2 linked regions of the Homo sapiens genome follow. The protein of the gene in region 1 purifies or fractionates together with the protein of each later gene. This does not show direct contact. Each region holds a gene or a part of one and is shown in the gene's direction. Other genes may lie near its edges.

The links.
Region 2: the proteins of KLHDC8A (region 1) and PEX7 purify together in Homo sapiens (affinity purification with mass spectrometry; 2 studies listed by BioGRID and IntAct, with this or other methods). This does not show direct contact.

Annotation. Positions count from the first base shown.
Region 1 is NC_000001.11:205,346,640-205,353,931, reverse strand, and holds part of KLHDC8A (kelch domain-containing protein 8A), read left to right. Parts: intron 1-5,341; exon of another isoform or gene 5,342-5,556; intron 5,557-7,292.
Region 2 is NC_000006.12:136,909,308-136,914,442, forward strand, and holds the end of PEX7 (peroxisomal biogenesis factor 7), read left to right. Parts: intron 1-4,150; coding exon 4,151-4,219; 3' UTR 4,220-4,627; downstream 4,628-5,135. UniProt on the Homo sapiens protein: Receptor required for the peroxisomal import of proteins containing a C-terminal PTS2-type peroxisomal targeting signal. Specifically binds to cargo proteins containing a PTS2 peroxisomal targeting signal in the cytosol.

The DNA of each region.
Region 1 (7,292 bases):
AACTCTAATAGCTTTGGTGAGTTTCCTAATCTCTCCCATTCCTTCCTTATGTAAATAGACCTCTTAGTGCTTGTTTCTCTCAAGGTTGTTGTAGAGATTATGTGATAAACAGAGTAAATGTCCCTGGTATACAACAAGGGCCCTCAAAATGTTTGTTTCCTTTTATTGCCACTAGATATTGCCGTGTCAACTTAACATTGCCACGGTGGTGTGAAGCACGTTGTCAAGAATAAGGTGGCAAGCTGGGAGTGGTGCGTGTCTATAGTCCCAGCTACTCAGGAGACTGAGGCGGGAGGATTGATTGGGCCCGGGAGGCTGCAGTGAGCCACGATGGTGCCACTGCACTCCAGCCTGGGTGACAGAGTGAGACCTTGTATCACACAAACAAGAAAACAAAAAATAAAAAGAATAAGGTGGCATTCCCCTTGTTCCCTTAAAACAGCCTAAGGTGCAGGGGAGGGCACAAGCATTTTCTGTAAAGGGCCAGATAGTAAACATTTTATGCTTTGCGGGCCATGCGCTCTCTGTTGCAACTACTCCATTCTGCTGTTGTAGTGGGAAAGCCGCCATAGACAACACGTAAATGAGTGAGTGTGGCTGTGTTCCAATATAACTTTATTTATAGATGCTGAAATGTGAATTTCATATCACTTTCATGTATCCCAAAATATTTTTCTTTTGATTTTTTTTCCCCAATCATTTAAAAATGTAAAAATTGTTCTTAGATTTCAGGCCATACAGAAACAGGCAGCAGGCCAGGGTTGGCCCTCAGGCATAGCTTGCTGACCCCTGCACTGAGGTACAACCTGTGATTTAGGGAGGATTTTTATCAAGGAATCTCTCAGAACATAATTCCCAAGACTGGGACCAAAGCAGGGAGATGGCATCCAAGGAAGAAAATAGTCCTTTCTGGGCCAGGACTAGAGAGGAACAAAGGACACACTGGATCCCTAGTGGTGGTTCCTCGTGGGGGGCAGCTGTTAGGTCTGGGTGTGAATAAAATTGTCCCTCTGTTTCTTGCCTAGTGATGTGCAGGGATGGACTGGCAGCTCCTGGGTGCTAAGCAGGCAGCCACATTCTCCTGGCGACAGGCTACAGGAGGATGCTCAAGGGCCAAGGCCCTGCCACTCCCTCCTTCACTGGGAGAGAAATGCAGGCTTCCTGGGGCTCCTTAGAGATCCTCAGGTACACACCCACCTGCCCCAGGAGTGCCGAGTGATGAGGACAGGCAGATCCTTTGATTCACCCAAAGCTTGGCCTGGTTCTCACCTTTCCAGACTCTCATGGCTTCTTAGACACACATATACACAACACACTCGCAGCCAGCTCATCACGCGTCCCCGCCCTCTCCCGTCTCCAGCACAGAGAGCACAGGTCAGCACGCCAGATGGCAACCTTGCTGCTGCAGCAGATTGCCGTCTCCCTAGGGAGCGGGGGTGAAAGCAAAGCACTGGATGATGCCTGGGCTCCAGTCCCCACCCCCTCCTCTCCAGTGTGCCTCTGTCTGGTCCTTTCTCTGGGAACAAGGGGTGTGTGTATGTGTGTGTGTGTGTGTAATGTAAAGTGCCAGAGGAGAAGGGGAGAGGTGAGGAGAGAGCAAAAGCCACTCCCTACCTCTGTACAGGTCCTGCCCCAGTGACCTGGCACCTCCTTCCATCTGGAGAGTGAGCGGGACCTCCCTCTCTGGCACCCAGGGAGGCTGGTGGGCTCTTAGAAGTGAGTAGAGGCATGGGATGGACAACAAGGCTGCCTCAAGGCCTGCTGGGAGAAGCAAAGAGGCCTGGGACCTTTCAGGGTGACTGCTGTCACTTCCCGGCTCTCTGGAGGGCCCGGGCTGAGTGTCATGCCAGCCTAAACAGCCTAAACTGTGAACCTCATCATCCTCTTCCCAGCCCCATAAAGGGCCCACAGCCTTGGATCCCCCTGGATGTCAGAGTCAGACAAAATTTGGAGTTAGGAGGGAGGCAAGGAAGGAGAGGCAGGCCATGAGAAAACCTCCTTTTTTTTTTTTTGAGACGGAGTTTCGCCCTTGTTGCCCAGGCTGGAGTGCAATGGCACCATCTCAGCTCACCGCAACCTCCACCTCCCAGGTTCAAGTGATTCTCCTGCCTCAGCCTCCCAAGTAGCTGGGATTACAGGCATGCGCCACCATCCCTGGCTAATTTTTGTATTTTTAGTAGAGACGGGGTTTCTCCATGTTGATCAGGCTGGTCTCAAACTCCCGACCTCAGGTGATCCGCCCGCCTCAGCCTCCCAAAGTGATAGGATTACAGGCATGAGCCACTACGCCCAGCCAAGAAAGCCTCCTCTTTTTTTTTTTTTTTTTTTTGACTATTACAGAAGTTTATTTAACAAAAAGTCTAATATGAAAATGTACATGACCTAATTTTTACATCATAGTAAAACAGGACCTATGGAGAGAGAGCATGGGTTTCTCTGCTGACCAGCCATTATTTATACTCATTCCAAGGCTTCTAACATGATGATACTATTTCCTCATATTACCACCATTCCAATATTGTTCTGTTGTCCACTAGTCGCCATTTCCACACATTCATCTATCACAAGGTTCATAAAGGGATCAAATCCCCGCAATATTCCTTGGACATGTCTGCCACCATTTAATTTCAATGATAACTTCTTGTCCATAAATTTTTTCAGCTCGGGAGGGTGAGCTTTGCTCATGGTGTATACTCCGCGGGCTCACAGATCGAAAGCCTGCTCTTAAAGTGAGCAGTGATGATCAAATAAAAGCCCAATATATGCTATGTACCAGGTGAGGAATCTCTATGTGGAAACAAGAGGAATCTTCGGGGAGTGGACCCTTCTCTCCTGGGTGGGGATGAGACAACAAATGAGCTTTTGTCTTCCAAATAAGGCAGTTTTCCTAGGAAGAGGGACTCCGGTGAGGGTGAGCAGGCCAGCCTTTTGTTTAGCCTTCTGTTTCTAGCAGGCCCTCTACCTCTAGGCCTGCAGAGCCCCATGGGGCTGGACTGTGGGTCTGTGGCCCTGCTCATTTAGAGCCTGCCAGAAGGAGAGCCAGCTCCCAGTGCCTCAGCACACACACACACATGCACACACACATGCGTGCGCGCACACACATGCATGCACACACACACATGCACACACAGGCACGCACGCCATCATGATAGGCAGGCTGGCCCATCTGCCAATCAATCTTCCTTGCTGATTTCCCAGCTGGAAGCAGCAGGGCTGGTGTGTAAATCATTCAGAGCCGTCTCTCAGCTCTGCCAGGACGTGGAGCTCTTTTTAATTAAGAAGAATGGAGGATGCTGCTGACTTTGGAAGGGGCAATATTAACTTACTAATGGGCATTTAAAGAGCCGTGTCTGAGTGGTCTGCTGCAGCCTTCCCCAGCCTATAGCCTTTTCTCCTCTGCAGAGCTGCCCTCATAAAGGCTCTGCTGTCCTCTACTTGAGAAGGGGTGAAGATTAGGCCCCCTAAGGGCCCCAGCCTGGTGACCTGGGACAAATGGGCACGTTTTCACTTTTAGAGAAAGAGCCATGTCGGGATGACCTGAGCTCTTGCATCCTCTGCCACCCTTGCATACTCTCCTGGCAGCAGGCACCCCAGAAAGGTCAGAACCCAACAGGAAGCAGGTGGGTGCCCAAGGTCTATAGGGAGCCAGCCCATTCGCCACAGCTGCAGCTGTCACAAGGCACCCCCTTGTCCTGGGCTGATTGGAGAGAAAGGAGGGTGGTGGTAGCAAGAGAGGGTAGCCAGGGGAAGCCCTGATAAAGTCTTCACTGGTGACTGGACCTGGGGTAGCTGGCAGCGCTTGTGAGAGCTGGTGGGGCCAGACCTCTGCGATCGTATCACCTGGCAGAATGTGAGGGTGTTCGTTCTAGAATCTGCTGCTTTGTCACTATGGCTAAATGCTTCTTTCTCTAGGGCTCCCCGCCTGTATAGCACCCCAAGAGTACAGAATACTCCAGCTGGGAGGGACCCCAGCTGCTCTCTTCTTCACCTTCCTTCCTTCTAATTTGACAGGCACCAGAATGGATATGACTTGCCCATAGTTGCACAGCCCGGTTACAACAAAACGTAGGCTGGAGGTCATAGCCTTCATCGTAACAAGACGTAGCAGAGGTCTTCTGACTGTCCTGTGTTTTTCTAGTATGGCCCGGGCGGCAATACAGGAGGCAGCTCCGTGGCCTCTCACCTCACCTCATGCTGGTGTTTCAGGTTTCTGACATTGCTGGTCAGGAAATTCTTCCTTGTTTATAACTCAAATCCTCAGGCTTTATTGTAAGCCCCATTTCCTCTTACGATTTCCTCAGTAAGCACAGGGAAGTAGCTGAGGTCTTTGAGAAGCATACCTTCCCGCACGCACTAAACAGCAGAGGAGCGTGTGGCTTCCCAACCCTTCCTTCTCTACATTGTGCAACTCCTGAGTCTGAAAACGAAGATGACTCCCTCCCTTTACCCATCATCCCATATCTGGGGTCCACTTTCCAATGTCCCAGTTTTACCTAAGTAGGCAGGAAGTTGCTTACAGATGAACAGATGCATTCGTTAATGGATACCCACTAAGGCCCTCTAGGTTCCAGGCACCAGCTATGCACTGGAGTGGGAGGGAGCAGGGAGGATAGCTGAAGGAATGTGGCTGATTCAACTGTCCAATCAAGGCTGCGTGGTCAGGAAGGGAACCTGAATAACTGAGGCCATTCTGCGGGACTCCAGCCCTCCACCTGCAAGGCAGCAGTGCCACATGATCACATACAGATCCTGGTTCTGACTGCTGGCAACTGTGTCATACCATCTCCCATCAAGTCCACGTGAGCTCTAAATCCTTCCTCTGGGCTGATGTTGGGACTGGTGGGGAGGAGGCCCTAATGAGGCTTCTCTATGCTGGGGGAGGAACTACCCTTTCCTTGGTCTGCTGGCAGCCTCAGTCCTAATTGGATGAGTCAGCCTCACTCCCCACTCCCTGAATAAGGACCATGCTTCTGGTTAGGAATGAGAAGGTGATTAGCTAAAGGAAGGGCACAGCTGTTCTCCAGATTAGAATGCAATTTAGGTTGCAGCAGATGAGATTTCAGCTAGCTAGGAGAAAAGATATCCTGTCTAAGACACAGGCCCAGAAGTGATTGGCTACAGGAGGGTATGGGCCCTGGTAAGGCTGCCTATCTTGTGAAACTGGCACCTGCTCTTGGGGGGCACACTAGCCTGAAAGTCAGAGGTACAGAAACTTGCCATCACAAGGGGAAGAAAGAAACTAGTCTTTATGAGGTACTTACCACGTGCCCAGGAACTATGCCTGGCATCTCCTTCCTCCTACAACTCTAGAAAGTAGATTTGCTTATTCCCTTTTTCACAGATGAGGACACTCAGATTCAAGGACATAAGTGACTGGTGCATAATCACACAGCTAGGAGGTGGCTGCACCAGGATTCAGATGCAGCCTGTCTGATGCTGACCACATGGTCTGTGGGGTGCTGCAGAAAGAAAACTGCATAAAGAAGGTGATCCTGGCCTCGGGGAGTTCCTGGTGTGTGCCTCCAGCCAGCGTGGTACCCTGCAGAGGGCACTCCGGTAAAGAGTATTTCTGGGGAGGGATAAGGAGCAGCTAATCACTAAACAACTCCTCTTCCCTCCTATCCCCCTGAAATGTTCCCTACACTTGGAATTCCAGCAGACGTTGAAACCCTTCCCACAGTTACTCCATCCATGGCCTGCCACACTGAGAATCTGCTTGGTTTATTGGGAAGAAACTGTTCCCCACAACACCCCCAACTTCCCCCTAAGGTACCGCAGTTTAGTGAAGGCAGGATCCTGCTGAATGCCTACCAGACAATAGAGACTGAGTAAAACTGTGCATTTCATTGTATGTAAATTAGACCTTAACAAATCCAAGACTTACTGAGCCTGTCAAGGTGGTGCATGCCTGTAATCCCTGCTACTCAGGAGGCTGAGGCAAGAAGATGACTTGACCTCAGGAGTTCAAATCCAGCTTGGGCAATATAGCAAGACCCCATCTTTTTAAAAAGAAACAAAACCCAAAACGTACTGAGTGACTTTTTTCTGGGGCTGAGCATCCTCAAGTTTGATTGATGCACCAATATCTATAATAAAGACTCCACAGCACCAAAGATGTAATCTTTAGAGGCTTTTATGACTTTTCCCTCCCTTAATTCCCCAACCTCCCACTCCTACCTTGTAATGAAGGGGAAAAATGAAACACTTTTTTTTTAGAGAGACAGGGTCTTGCTGTGTCACCTGGGCTGGAGTGCAGTGGCACGATCTTGTTTCACTGAAGCCTCTACCCCCTGGGCTCAAGTGATCCTCCCACCTCAGCCTCCCTAGTAGCTAGGATTATGTGCCACGAAGCTCAGATAATTTTTGTTTATTTTTTGCAGAGACAGGGTCTCACTATGTTTTTGAGGCTAGTCTCGAACTCCTGGACTCATGTAATCACCTGCCTCGGCCTCCCAAAGTGCTGGGATGACAGGCACAAGCCACCACATCCAGCGTAAAAACTCAAATGCTTTTTAAGGCAAAAGAGAAACACCGGCTTAATGTTACGCAAGATTTTAGAGCAAGAAGGATTTAGATTTGACATGAGGAAGAACTTTCTGACCAGGAAAATGGTTACACACTAGAATAGGGTAGGGAGGGACCAAGGAGTCACTGGACACTCTCCCTCCGATTAGCACTCCTTAAGGCCCCATCTTGGTGCACTCAACCCAGGCAATGGAAACTACAGATGACTCAGGGAATCTTAAGTGGCAGTTGCTAGGTTACAAGCTTCCTCGATGTGCACTCAGTGTAAGCGCTAAAGGATGTTACCTGGCGGAGAGGAAGAGAGATGGGGGAGATGGAGAGAAGCCAGGACTTCCAGAACAAGCAATTAGGTCATGGTCTGGAAGACATCCTGTTGTTAGTACTTTTCCAAGGGTCTGAGTCCCTAGATCTCACGGTCTGCATAGAAGATGGTGCCTGTAGGATATGAGCCTTAGTTTAGAATGGGGGCCTATTCTGGGGCTGGATTCCAGCACTTCCTTACCTGCACTGCCTGGCACAAACAGTATGGGCAGCCGCTGGAATCTCCTTGGTGGCCTGGGCTCCTTTCTTCACTGCAGTGGAATAAAGACCAGAAGCCAGGTGGAGAGTGGACCCACTTGGTTTCCTTCATAAGGCACAATTCTTTAATTTGTGATTTAATTGTGATAAAGTAAAGGAGCACTGGATTTGGAATTCATACCTTGGACCCACTCTGAACGGCCTGCATGGTCCTAAGTAAGTCACTTCATCTCATTAAGGCTCAGATT
Region 2 (5,135 bases), on another chromosome or scaffold:
TTAAAAACAAACAAACAAAATATATATCCTTCAAATCCCATAAAACTTGTTGCTTTTACCCACATCTCTGACCTCACACCTAATTGGATGCTTTTTATTATGTGAGGGGCTCTCTCTACTCAACAAAATCTTGCAGTGCTACCAGAAGCCATTGCAGTGGCAGTGATAATTAATAAGAGGTCCCCTGGGGACCACATGGCACAATAGTTTTTCCTTACCAGGAAGTTCCTACATAGCAACCTTGGAGAATCTAGAGCCTCTTTGTTAGTTAGTAAAGTGCTTTTTTCTTACCTTATTATTATTTTCTTTATTGTTAGCTTGCTTAAATTTGTAGAACCAGATAGGGCTTAATTAACAAATAGAGGAATACTATTTTCATCAATTTGAATTAATCTATTCATAATTCTATATCATTGCAGTTTTAGATCTATCTTAATCCAATTAAGTATAGATTTATGAACATTTGCTGAATCAGTGGCCTTGACATTTGGTAGTTATTATAAGTCCTGAATAAATAAGAAGCTGGATTGGAGAGTGCCGAATAAGGTTTCAGAAACATAATTTATAGATACCTTGCACTAGAAACCTAAGTCTTATTTCTCTGATTCTCTTCTCTCCAGTAGCGGATGCTTAACATGTGGGAAGGCCCAGCACTTGAAAAAAATAGGCATAGATGAGACAGGGGTAATTTAACATAATGATCTTTGTGTCCTATGGTATAAAAACTGAAAACTGCAAGATTAGGCAAATAATGGTTTTCAGTTTGCCTTTTCTATGAGGCACTGTTTTAGTGGATACATTCAACAGGTTTAGGTTCTGGCTGTAGCTCTGCTACTCTATTGTGAACATGAGGACAGAGTTAACCTCTGAAATTGTAATCTATGAAATTAATTTGTTGAGCCAATATTCATTGAGTTATGTTCTAATAAGACATGGTCCATGCCCTCAAAGAGCTGAAGACAACTCTTTGTCTTCAGTTGGGAAAATAAGTACAATCAAGTATTATGGGTACAATGAATGACTTCATAGAGGAGATGATACCTAAACTGATTTTTTAAAAAAGAGACATCTCTGGCAGAGCAAGGCAAAGGGGACAGAGGAGCAGACAGAAAGGGAGGGAGAAGAGGAGTTATTAAAGGGAAGCGATCAGTAAAGGAACAAGAGCGAAGAGGCATAAGCAGCATGCTTGGATTTGAGGTGTGAGCCCGGTGCAATGAGAAATGAAATGGGAACAACCAGATCTTGAAGAGTGAGGTTTTTAAATTTAAAAGTTTGACTAAAAAGTCTATAATGCTCTCTGTAGCTTGGATTCTGATCTCAGAATATTGGTAGTGAATGATTGGCTATCACTATTCAAAATTAGTGATAGCCAAGAAATTACATTAGTCAAAACGAGGTTTCTCTTGTGTAATTTTCAGCCTTTGTAATAAGCATGAAAGGCTGGGAAATGGAGTGCAAATACTTTTGGTCAAAAGCACTCTCTTGCTACTTCATCTTTCATTTTACTGCCTACCTTGTTTCTTTTCTTCTTTTTTTTAAATTGTGGAAAATTTTGAAAACATACAAAGTAACAGAATCAGATAACGAACTTCATTACTTAGCTTGAACAACTATCAACATTCTTATTTTATTTATTCCTGTACTCTCACACATCGTTTAGTTATCGCTAACATTATTTTTACTATTTTTAGGTATAATTCACATATATTGAAATTTACAAATCTTAGATATACATTTTTGACAAATAGATACGTCTGTGAAATTCACATCATCCCAGTTATTGGAAACTGGGAAAGCCCCCAGTTTCCTTTTTACCCCTTTCCAATCTCCCCTATCCCCACCCTTCCCTCCAGGTGAGAAGAGTAACATTGTTCTGACTTTTTGTTTGTTTGTTTGTTTACCTTAGATGAGTTTTGCCTGTCTTAGAATTCTATAAGGAACTCTTCTGTATGTCCTCACTTGTTTCTGGCCTCTTACCTGTGAGCTTCACCCGTGGTACTGAGCCTGTTAGCAATTCCTCCCTTTGTTTTGCTGAGCACATGCTGTTGTATGAATTTACTACAATTTGTTACCGATTCTTTTGTTAGTGGGTATTTTGGTTGTTTTCCTTTTTTTTTAGACAGAGTCTCACTCTGTTGCCTAGGCTGGAGTGCAGTGGCATGATCTCGGCTCACTGCAACCTCTGCCTCCCAGGTTGAAGCGATTCTCCCACCTCAGCCTCCCTAGTAGCTGGGATTACAGGTGCACACCACCACACCTGGCTCATTTTATGTATTTTAGGTAGAGGTGGGGTTTCACCATGGTGCCCAGGCTGGTCTCAAACTCCTGACCTGAGGTGATCCATCTGCCTCAGCCTCCTAAAATGCTGGGATTACAGGTATGAACCACTTTGCCCAGCCTTGTTTTCGATTTTTTGCTATCGTGAATGAAGTTGCTATGAACATTCGTGTCTACATTGTTTTGCAAACATATGTTTTCATTTTTCTTGGACAAATATCTGGGAGTGGAATTACTGGGTCAAAAGATAGGTATGTGTTTAACTTGGTAAGAAACGGCCAAATTGTTTTCCAAAATGGTGGTACCATATACCTTCCCTACCAGCAATGTATGTGATCACAGCTGTTCCACATCCCTGCTGACATTTGGTGTTGTCAATCTTTAATTTTAGCCATAATGTGAATATATGGTGGTATCTCATTGTCATTTTTATTTGCATTTCCCTAATCCCTAATGATGTTGAGCACTTTTTTATGTGCTTACTTTTGCCCATCATTTTTCATTAGATTGCCTTTTATTATTGAGTTGTATTGGTTCTTTATGTATTCTTGATACAAGTTGTCAGGTGTATATTTTATGAATATTTTATATAACTGTGTCTTGCCTGTTCATTTTCTTAACAGTGTCTTTTGATGAGCAAAAGTTTTATTTTTGATTGAGTGTAACTTACCAAATTTTTGATTATTACTTTTTGTATCCCTAAGAAATCTTTACTTACCTCTGTATTGAGAATATATTTTCCTTTTTTTTTTTCTGAAAGTGTTATACAGTTTGCTTTTATATTTAGGTCTGTGGTGCATCTCAAATTCATTTTTATGTGCAAAGTTGGGGTCAGGATTCACTTTTTTCCCTATGGATATTCAGTTGTTCTGCCACCATTTATTGAAAAGACTATTTTTTCCTTTTGCTCTTTAATTGTTTTGGTACCTTTGTTGAAAGCCATTTGTCCAAGTGTGGGGCCTATTTCTGAACTCTGTTCTCTTCCTTTGATCTACTTGTCTTTATCCTAATCCTGCACAGTCTTGATTACAGTAGTTTCGTGCTGAGTCTGGAAGTCAGCTAGTGTTAAGTAGTGCAGCTTTGTTTCATTTCAAGATTCTTTTGGCTAAGTCCTGGCATTTCCACATAAATTTTAAAAATTGCCTCATCCATTTCTATTAAAAAACGAGTATATAGAAACACAGTGGTTTTCATATATTAATTTTATACCCGGAGACATTGCTATATTCACTAAGTTTTTAATGCATAGTTCCTGAACACCCTGGACTTTCTTCCCTTCATGTTTTCCTATGGCTCTGTAGATGTGAATGTCCTTGTCTTTTATGTCTGCCTCCTACAGAGGTCCAGTGGGAATGCCATGGCATTGTGAAGTTGTCTGACACTGTCCCAGCTGGAATCATATAGTCCCCCTAAGAGTCTCTGTTAGTGCACCTTCCACACTCAGTCTTGAATGAGCCATTTTTTGAAGGCAAGAGCTTTACTTTATCTTCCTCTCCAGTCCCACAATATTGAGCACAGCATCTTGTTCACAGTCTGGAACGTATCTTTTCGACATTTATATCAGATAGTAGGGAATTATGTAGCTGTTGGGTGAAGTGAAGGTGGGGGACATTCTTATAGGAAACCTCAGTCAATTGAAATATACCAATTGGAATATACTCAATCAATGGGAATCAGTTGGAATACCCTGAGGTATATCCTAAAAAGGGAATATGGACCTTTTATCAAAAACGTAGCCCTATGTTTTCCCTATTCAAAAATATGTTTACTAGTGGATGATTTACGACACTCTAAATGACTTGAGTTTTTGCTGTCAATTTTGAATTTTTGTATGTCTAAATACGTTTCTTCTTACTTCATTTTTGTTTTCTAGGTGGCTGACTGTTCTTGGGATGAAACAATAAAGATCTATGACCCTGCTTGTCTTACTATTCCTGCTTGAGATACACTACTTTGGTCAGAAACAGAGGATGTTGGCTGAAGAACTGCCTAACAGCAAATAAATTAACTATGGAAAACATAGACATTATGCTTTTATATGCTATTCAGATTTCAAATCTTTCCAATTTACCCTGGAATCAGTTTTGAGGGAGCTGATAAAGACTTTAGCTGACTCGTTAAGCCTGATACATAAGCCATATTTAAAATTCTAAGAAATAATTAATGTTATGATATATCTTGTAGTATCTATTAAAATGTCTCTGGGTCATAAAATGGATTAAAATATGGGAGATCAGTAGGTTATACTTATATAGATAGTGATATATTTCATTTTTAATTTGTCATTTTTGATGTAAAATATAATCACTGCTGTGATAAATAAACTATCTATTGATCATTTATCATTTTATAACTTCCCCCAAAAGACTGCTCTTTCTAATACATTGTATATGTGAATATAGTACTATATATAATATAGATATATCTGTGGTTCAGTAACAGGACACTAGAATATATTTAATTTATTCTTTTATTTAGTAGCTGTTTATTGAGCATCTACTCAGTGCTTGACACATAGACTCAATGAGATTCTGTCAAGGACTGGTGCCATGTTTTTAAGAACATGGAATGCTGTGAGCTAAGAGCTTACTTTTTTTTTTTTCTTAGAATTTATTCACACATTTTTAGATATTGTACCCATGACTCTATAATTTTGTCTTCCCACTTCTCTAATATCAAAATTTTTTTAAACTGTCAATTAAACAAAAAGTTTTAGGTCCTACTAAGGCTTCTAGCTTTTGCCCTTGAAACCAGGCCTAAGTACAGCTATACGTGCTCCTTGCCACCTCCCTAAGTTTTCTTGAAAAAGCTCTAGGTGCAGATGAACTGAAAAAAACAAAAAAAGTTGGTTAAAGAGG